Linked DNA regions of Homo sapiens. The protein of the gene in region 1 purifies or fractionates together with the protein of each later gene. This does not show direct contact. Each region holds a gene or a part of one and is shown on either strand. Other genes may lie near its edges.

Evidence for each region. Proteins that work in one complex are often made in the same cells at the same time.
Region 2: the proteins of ACYP2 (region 1) and GFPT2 purify together in Homo sapiens (affinity purification with mass spectrometry; one large-scale study listed by BioGRID and IntAct). This does not show direct contact.

What each region holds. Positions count from the first base shown.
Region 1 is NC_000002.12:54,302,239-54,306,847, forward strand, and holds the end of ACYP2 (acylphosphatase-2), read left to right. Parts: intron 1-2,449; coding exon 2,450-2,564; 3' UTR 2,565-3,062; downstream 3,063-4,609. UniProt on the Homo sapiens protein: Its physiological role is not yet clear.
Region 2 is NC_000005.10:180,301,337-180,305,844, reverse strand, and holds part of GFPT2 (glutamine--fructose-6-phosphate aminotransferase [isomerizing] 2), read left to right. Parts: intron 1-905; coding exon 906-1,073; intron 1,074-3,260; coding exon 3,261-3,422; intron 3,423-4,236; coding exon 4,237-4,281; 3' UTR 4,282-4,508. UniProt on the Homo sapiens protein: Controls the flux of glucose into the hexosamine pathway. Most likely involved in regulating the availability of precursors for N- and O-linked glycosylation of proteins.

The sequences.
Region 1 (4,609 bases):
TTCATGCCACCACAACTGCTCCTGCTCCTGCCAAAGTCACAGGTGACATCGACGTTGCTAAACACAATGGCCAGTTCTCATTTCTCACCTCACTGGCCCTGCCAGCAGCATTGGCCTGGTGGATCCCTCTCTACTTCCTGAGGGCTTGATTGGGCTCCCTGGGCACCAGTTTTTCCTCATACCTCACTGGATGCTTCCTTCTCTGCCTTTCCTGGTTCTTCCTCTGCTTCCTGAGCACTTCACATTGGAGAACCCCCAAAGTACAGTCATTGGACCTATCTTTTCTATCTAGATTCATTTTCTTGATGATCCCAGCCAATCTTATAACTTTCGATACTTTCTATCTGCTGACAAATTCCAAATTTTATATCCTCTAACCAGACTCATAGGTCCAACTGCCTACTCACCATCTCGCTTTGGATGTCTAACAGACATCTCAAATGTAACATTCCAAAACTGAGCCTCTGATCTTCCCCTTCCCCCAAAATCTGCTCCTCTCACAGTCTCTCCATTTCAGTAAATGACAACCCTATCCAACTAGTTACTCACACCAAAAACTCTGGTGTCATCCTTCACTCCTCTCCTTTTCTCACACCCACATTCAATCTGTCAGCAAATCTACTTTTACTATACCTTCAAAATATACTCAGAATCTGAATCCTCCTGACAACCACTCTGCTAACCACCCTGTGCAAGTTACTATCTCTTAAGTGTCTCTCTTTTCTCATCAATAACTGGGGGCAATAATAGCCTATGACTTACAGGGTTCTTGTGTGGAATAAAAGATAAGACATGTAAAGAACTTAGCATAGTGCCGAACAAATTGTTAGTGCTTGGCCAGTCATGGTGGCTCACACCTGTCATCCAAGCACTTTGGGAGGCTGAGGAGGGAGGATTGCTTGAGGCCAGGAGACCAGCCTAGGCAACATGGTGAGATCTTGTCTCTACTAAAATTCAAAAAAATTAGCCAGGTGTGATGGTGCGTGCCTGTAGTCCCAGCTACCTGGGGTACTGAGGCTGGTGGATTACTTGAGCCCTGAAGGTCAAGGCTGCAGTGAGCCATGATCATGCCACTGCACTCCAGCCTGGGTGACAGAGTGAGACCCTGTCTGCACCCTCCCCCCTCCAAAAAAAAAGTTGTTAGTGCTTAATAAATTTTAGCTTTCATTATTATTTGTGGCGTCAGTTTTCTAGGAGGTTTCAAGAAGACGTGGCTAGTAAAGTTGAAGCTATCAGTTCCTTTTCATAAGAACTGAGTTTTTTCTTCAACACATGAAATTTTCATTTTAAAGGTTTTACCTAAATGAGCTAAAGAGAAAGAAGTCCAAACTAATCTCACCCAGTAAAACTGTCACAGATAAGATCCAAATAAAGGGTTAAAAAGCACAATAGCAATTTGAATCATTGGAATTCTTCTCTATAAAAGTAATTTTCAGCTAACCTAGAAAATATTTTAAATCTAAAGTTATATAAGATTGTCACATATCATACTGCATAGCTGTCTACAGCCCTAGCTTCACAACCTGAAATAATTTGGGGATATGAGGAAACTCATAGGATGTTTCTACAACAGCAACTGAGATAACAGCCATCATTTGTATAAAACAGCCTTGTTTTATAAACCTAAAGTCCCAGCTAATTAGTAATAGGTAGAAAGATTCTGGAAAATCCTCAGTGTTATCTGAGATGTCAGCAATATACAATAGGCCTGAACTATATAGGAAATATCTTGGGTAAGTGACCTAATGCATAAATTAGATGTGTGGATATCACTAATAAGATAAACCATTGCACTAAATAAGAAGAAAAATATTTCAGAGCATTCAACTTGTCCTTTAATGCAATCACTTTGTTAATATATGTGGTAAGAAACAGTATTTGAATAGATAAAAGTAGATGAGCATTTTTTCTTAATATTTTTCAAAAATTATGTTTCTTCTTTATTCTTTAAGTATGGATCTCTTTCATTATATATATGTCTGTGTGTGTGTGTGTGTGTGTGTGTGTGTGTAGAGATATATGTATCTCTCTATATACACATAAATACATGAAACATCTACCACGTGCTGAGTAATGAGGAAACAATAGTGAATTGTTTTTATTACTAAGCTCCTTATAAAAATATTTTGATCGTTTTGAGTATAAGAGCCAGGTAACAGTGGCCTTGGAGTGTTTTAAGTTGGCGGGTGGGGGAGATAACCCTAATATAAAATCATCAGGAATTGACTGTGCTTAATTTATTAGATTTTCTTCATCTGTATTTAATTATACATTATACTCTGTGGTATTCTTAGAGTGATATATACAATGTAAACAAATTTAAATATCACATATATGCAAAAATTACTTAGTAAAGGTAAACTCCCATTAATACCTACTGTGGGCTCATTTTAGCTGATCCATGTATACTTTGTATGCTAATTTTATTTATTTATCTGTTTTTTTATAGGAAGTCCTGGCTGAGCAAGGTTGGAAGCCCTAGTTCTCGCATTGACCGCACAAACTTTTCTAATGAAAAAACCATCTCTAAGCTTGAATACTCTAATTTTAGTATTAGATACTAATAGAAGAGAAAAATTGTAACACACTGAACAATAGATACTGTATGTTCTTAAGACTATGTATACTAGAATAATAGTAGCAGAGTAGGGTGAAAAGGAACTTTCTGTTCTGAAAGCTAAGCGACTGTACGTGCTACTAAAAATGTCTGACACTGAAATAATTTTACTCAACTATGTTTTCAACAAGCAAAAATATAGTATTCTAAGATTAAAATGTCATTACAAAATATTTAGTGTGAACATTTAATTTAAACTTGTCTCATGGAATCTTTAATTTCAATGAACATTACAGCATATATATGTTATTTGGCGAGACATCAAATAAAGTTAACCATTTAAAAATTATTTTCATATACTGTTGTCTATGTTGAATTATAAAATCCTCTGAATAATTTGTTACTACGGTTATTTGTTATTAAACTCTTCAAAAAGAACCAGTGATTAGAAATAAATGTGATGATCAATATAACCATAAAATATTATCAACAAAGAGTTTTAAAATTCTGGTTAATGTGAACATTATTTGGTTGGAGCTACTTTAATGCCTTCTATATTGTTGTGTGCAGTGAACATTCAGGCTGAATGATGGTGGCTAACAAGAACTCGCAATTTCAGTATAGCAAGCAGCAAGATTTTCAACCACCACCCACAATAGATGTCCTATTAACCAGAAAAGAAACCGAGAGTCTAAATGAATCCATACAATACTGTCCCCTAAACTTGGCCTATCTCTTGGGAAGCTTCACATGTAACTGATAAAGCAATGGAGAATTTAAAGGGGAAGGTTTTTTCTATAGCATAAAATGATAATGTTAAAAAAGGAAGACCTTTAATGAAAAACACTGGGGAATTTCAAGTGTTGTAGGCATATACTTGCACATATTCCATGATTTTCAAACTTTTTATATCAATGGAATCCTTCCTTAAACCAAAATTTTATATAGAATTGAATACGTAAGTTTTTAAAAAAAGCAAAAACAAAGCACAGCTGGTGAAAATAAAGTGGAGATGGGCGTCCCCAGAGCCTTGCATACTTGGTGTCCCTTTCTCTACTTGGACAGTTTCAAATACCTTGCTAGTACACTTTGAAAACTACTATTCTATCTAAGGAACAAATCTCTATTGCTATCCTCCATGGCCTGGAGAACGAATGCAGGCCTCTTTCTCTTCTACCTATGCAAGATAAGAAATGAGGAGAGATGAAGGGGGCGGGGGTGAGTTTGTTCATTGGAAAGGTTAACTCCTTGATGATAATATTGTTATCAAATGTATATAAAACAACACAACATTAGGGAATGACTTTCCAAATAAAGGACTAAAGAACTTTCCTATTATTCTAATACCATCATCATGTTAAGTATTACATGTTTCAAATGTCACGCAGGAGAAGCTATTGAGATGTTCTTTTGGATTTTGCTCTCCTTCTGTTTCCCCACTCCTGATTCAAGAAAGGTTGACAAGTCTTTGTGTTCCCTTATTTCAGGGGAAGCTTTGGGTGCCAGATCCCCCTGAAGACAACCTTTCTTCCAAAATTTCATTTTAAAGAGGGCATTATCCTGTGAGTTGAGGAGAAAGACAAATGCTGGGCTTTTAGGGGGTAAAAGAGAAGCAGAAGTTGTGAGAGCCAAAGAAGACAAGGAGATTATCCAAGACTTTGGAAAGGAACCAAAGGCTGTGGATTACCCAAGTCATGGAGACCTGCACCTTTCTCCCCAGTGGCACCTCTACCTATAGCTAAACCTGAAAGGGAAGCAGCTGTAGTTCCCAGAGAAGCTAGATCCCAGGCCCAGGGGCTTCCAGCATTAGCAGGATTCCTGTCCCCAAAAATGCTTCAAAGCATCCTACAAACACCAGGGTGGTTACAAGGGACCATGGTGGTTTGAACAGTGATCATAGCAATTGGTATGCGCTGGACACCGAGAGGTATTTCCTTAATGTTTTCTCTGCATATAACCCTTTGCATGCTGCTTCTGAGAGAGGGAACAAAGCACCAGGGATGACTAAGATATCCACCTCCAGACAGGATGAGGCTTGAAGCAGGCTCGCTT
Region 2 (4,508 bases), on another chromosome or scaffold:
TTCTGACTCCTGTTAAAGAACAGGCAGGTGCTGCTTCTTGGAGTGCAGTAGAGGCAAGGCCTGGGGTGCACTGTCAGTCCCCAGATGACTCTGCGTCATGGGTGGGGGCTGAGCTGCGGTGGCTGAACGTGCTGGCGGGAGATGCACATTGCAGCTATGCCTCCGCATGAGTCTGCTGAAGGAAGAAGCGTTTAGGTGGCTGCTGGCACGAGCCCATGGTCCTCTGGTCACTGGGAGGCCGGCACTGCAGCTGTCTGCGCCTCCAGACTGGAGCCGCACTCCTTACAGTGTGGCCCTGACCTAAATCAGCAGTGCTAGCGGGGAGTCGAGAGATGATTTATTTGACTGTCTCACCATTTCAATGACGTGGATTTGTGGTAACTGAATAGAGATGGATCTACCTGAACACAGGAAAAAAATTAATTCAAATAACACCCCAGTTTGTGTGATTTTGCTTGGAACCACTCTTTAGAAGTTATTAATGGGCAAATGCTTAATCAGATAATTAACTGAAGGTGTAGCTAAGCTGAATACGATGCTGTCGTTATACACGTGGCTGGCTAGGGAGGAGCAGGGGGTGAGCTAGGCTGACTCCGACTTGTTTGTCCTAAGGGGTGGCTGTGCGTGGGACTGGAGAGAGACAACAGCAGTGCCCGGGGCTGGTGTGGGGACACAGAGGTTGTGTCCCGGGCTGGTGCATGCTCTGGATGGTAGCCAGGCCTCTCCCCAGGCCCTTGCTGGGTGTCCTCAGTGCTGTCAAGCACTCCAGGCATCTGTCTGCCTTGCAACCCTTGGCTCTCTGCCTTCCAGAGTCATCCTTCCCCTGGTTCCCCTTCTTCCCCTCTGGCTGATCTGCTCCAGCCCCATCTGCCCAGTGTGACTCTGATCTCACCTCCTGTTTCCAGAAAATTAAAGAGATAACCTACATGCACTCAGAAGGCATCCTGGCTGGGGAGCTGAAGCACGGGCCCCTGGCACTGATTGACAAGCAGATGCCCGTCATCATGGTCATTATGAAGGATCCTTGCTTCGCCAAATGCCAGAACGCCCTGCAGCAAGTCACGGCCCGCCAGGTGAGGGCTCTCCACTGGACTGGGCCAGCTCTCTCCTGCTTTTCCCCATGCATGCCCACCTCACCACTGTCTGCCAGTACCAGTGATGGATGGTCTGGCCAGTGAGTGGCTGTGACCACACACCCTCCCCCGGGCCGCCTGTGGGGAGTGCACACACTTGGAAAGGAGCTGGTCAGCCCGCAGCTGTCCCACACAGCTCTTTGGTGGGGCCCAGGGACCCACACTGCTGTGAGCAGCACCAGATCCTAGCCTGGAGCTCAGGGGAGGTACTCCTGGTGGACATCCCTGGGGCAGGGTTTCCCCAGGTTCTGCGGCCAAGCAGCTCCGATGGGAACTACCTGGAGTTAGGTCAGGTCTCATAGGGCAGGGGCACAGCTTTCCATAAGACTGCCCTCGATTCAGGCACCTGTTGCAAGCCAGGGGTCCACCCACACATCTGAGCAACTGACTATGAATCCAAGGATTCCCACTCTCCCCTGAAGTTCAGTAATTTTCTAGAACGACCCATAGAACTCAGGAGATGACTATATGATTACAGTTTTATTATAAAAGATATAAATCACAGCCAACCCAAAAGAAGAGACCCCTAGTTTGAGGGCCCCAGATGTGAAGCTTGTGTCCTCAGGATGTGTCACCCTCCCAGCACGTCACTGTGTGTCGCCCGGGAGCTCCCCTGAGCTGCTAGCTCCAGTGTCCAGAGTTTGTATTGTGGTTTTATTAAGTAGGCAGGATGGAGTGAACCATTGGCCATGTGATCAAACTCAGTCGCCAGCCCCACTTTTGTCCTTGGAGGTTGGGAGGTCAGACTGACAGGCTCATGTCTCAAAGCCCCAACCTTCTAATCATGTGGCTGGCCTTTCTAGCAGGGCCAGACGCCATCCTGGAACTATCTACAGGCCCACCACGAGTCGTCACCTTAGCATAAAGTTAGGTATAGTCCAAGGGACCTCCCATAAATAACAAAGATGCTTTTGTCACATGGGAAAGTCCAGAAGCCAGGAGCTCCCTTCCTGGAACCGGCCACAAAGACCAACCAAATGCTTTGTACACAGCAGCTGCCCTGAGGTAGGAGGGCAGAGTTCATGAAGTTTCGGGGAGGTGAAATCCAATGAGGTGCCCCATCCAGATGTTGCCACCTGGCTCAGCACAGAGGTCAGAGTGAGGGTATAAAACACAATGGCATCATTTCCCCACTTAAAACCCTCCCATACCTGCCTGTCAAGCCACAGAGACCCACAGTCCTGCGTTATCTGGCCCTTTCCTCCTGTTTCAGTGAGTTCCAGGCACTCCAGCTTTCCTTCTGCGTCCCACTCTCATTGCGCCCGCGCCCGCCTCCGGGCCTTTGCGCTGGCCGCTCCTGCTGTCTGGAATGCCCTTCCCACAGAATGCTCCGCCGAGGGTTGTCCCCTCATCATTTAGGGTTCAGTCCAGATGTCTCCTGTTTTTGAGAGAGCTTTGGAGACCTCACCAGTCTCCCAATGACATTATCCTGTTTTCTAGCCTTGGTGGCATTTCTTTGGAATTCATTTTTTTTTTTTTTTTGTGACGGAGTCTGGCTCTGTCGCCCAGGCTGGAGTGCAGTGGCGCCATCTCGGCTCACTGCAAGCTCCGCCTCCCAGGTTCACGCCATTCTCCTGCCTCAGCCTCCCCAGTAGCTGGGACTACAGGCCCCCGCCACCACACCCGGCTAATTTTTTGTATTTTTTAGTAGAGACAGGGTTTCACCATGTTAGCCAGGATGGTCTCGATCTCCTGACCTCGTGATCCACCCGCCTCAGCCTCCCAAAGTGTTGGGATTACAGGCGTGAGCCACCACGCCCGGCCTGGAATTCATCTTTATTTCTTGGTTTGCTTGTCTAGGTTTTTGTTTTCTACCACTAGACTATGAGCCCCGCTAGAGTTAGGAGTGAGTCTGCCCCGCTCTCGGCAAGGCACAAATGGGTGCCAAATGATGCAGCAGGATGGCAATCTCCTTACCAGGGAAGGGGAAGAAACCCCCAAAAAGCATCAGACACTTTATCCTTTCCAAGCATTTGTGTCCCACACATACCACCTCACCCATGACTCCAGCAAATGCAAAAGAGGACTGTTCTCATCACAGTAATGTAGCTTCCAGATACTCTGTATGCATCAGGGATAGCTTCTTTCAGAGAGGGTCTATTTTATGATGCTATTTCTCTGCTCTAGGGTCGCCCCATTATACTGTGCTCCAAGGACGATACTGAAAGTTCCAAGTTTGCGTATAAGACAATTGAGCTGCCCCACACTGTGGACTGCCTCCAGGGCATCCTGAGCGTGATTCCGCTGCAGCTGCTGTCCTTCCACCTGGCTGTTCTCCGAGGATATGACGTGCGTCTAAAAACTGCACCTAACAGCAGAGAGGAGAGACATAACCCCAGAGTTCCTTTCTGTTCTTTAAATACTTGGAGTAAATAGTCATAGAGTAAATAATTTTATTTAAAGTAGCTTTCTTTTTTTTTTTTTTGAGATTGAGTCTCGCTCTGTCGCCCAGGCTGGAGGGCAGTGGCACAACCTCGGCTCACTGCAAGCTCCACCTCCTGGGTTCAAGCGATTCTCCTGCCTCAGCCTCCCGAGTAGCTGGGACTACAAGCACCCGCCACCATGCCTGGCTAATTTTTTGTATTTTTTGTAGAGACGGGGTTTCACCGTGTTAGCCAGGATGACCTTGATCTGACCTCGTGATCCACCTGCCTCAGCCTCCCAAAGTGCTGGGATTACAGGTGTGAGCCACCGCACCCGGCCCAGTAGAAGCGTACTTATGAACCATTCCTACCTTTCCTTCCCACTCCACCCTAAACAAATAAGTCCCATGGAATTCATATATATTCTTGCAAGAAAAGTTAATTTTTAACAGTACACACCAAGTTACCTGTGTTTAAAAGCATGAACCTTATTCTTTAAATCATGTTAACAGATCATGACACACATCAGGTGCACAGTAAATGTTTATTGAGGGACTAAACCTTATACGGTTAAATGAGGCTTCTGGACTAAGGAATCTGCCTCCAAGACGCAGGTCTCTAGGTTGGTGACCATGGTGAACATCTGTCTCTTGTTTTTAAGTACTCTGAAAATTGTCTGTGAGAGGTAGCATGTTGCTGAGATCTTTGGGGTCCTGAACAGTCACTTTCTTTCATTTTAGGTTGACTTCCCCAGAAATCTGGCCAAGTCTGTAACTGTGGAATGAGGCTGAGACCGTGACAAGACCATCACCACCTTTCATCTGATTCCAGACCTGTCCCAACAGCAGGGATGCTACATGGGAAGAGAAGTGGACATCCCACATGTTCTGCGTGCTCCTGTAGAGCTTGACAGCTTCCACGTGCCTTCTACCCAAGTGCTTTTGCTTACAGCAGATACTGTTTCTCTGTGTCCTGAAGTCGCCAGAGGAGAAGGGAATCATTGTTTACACAT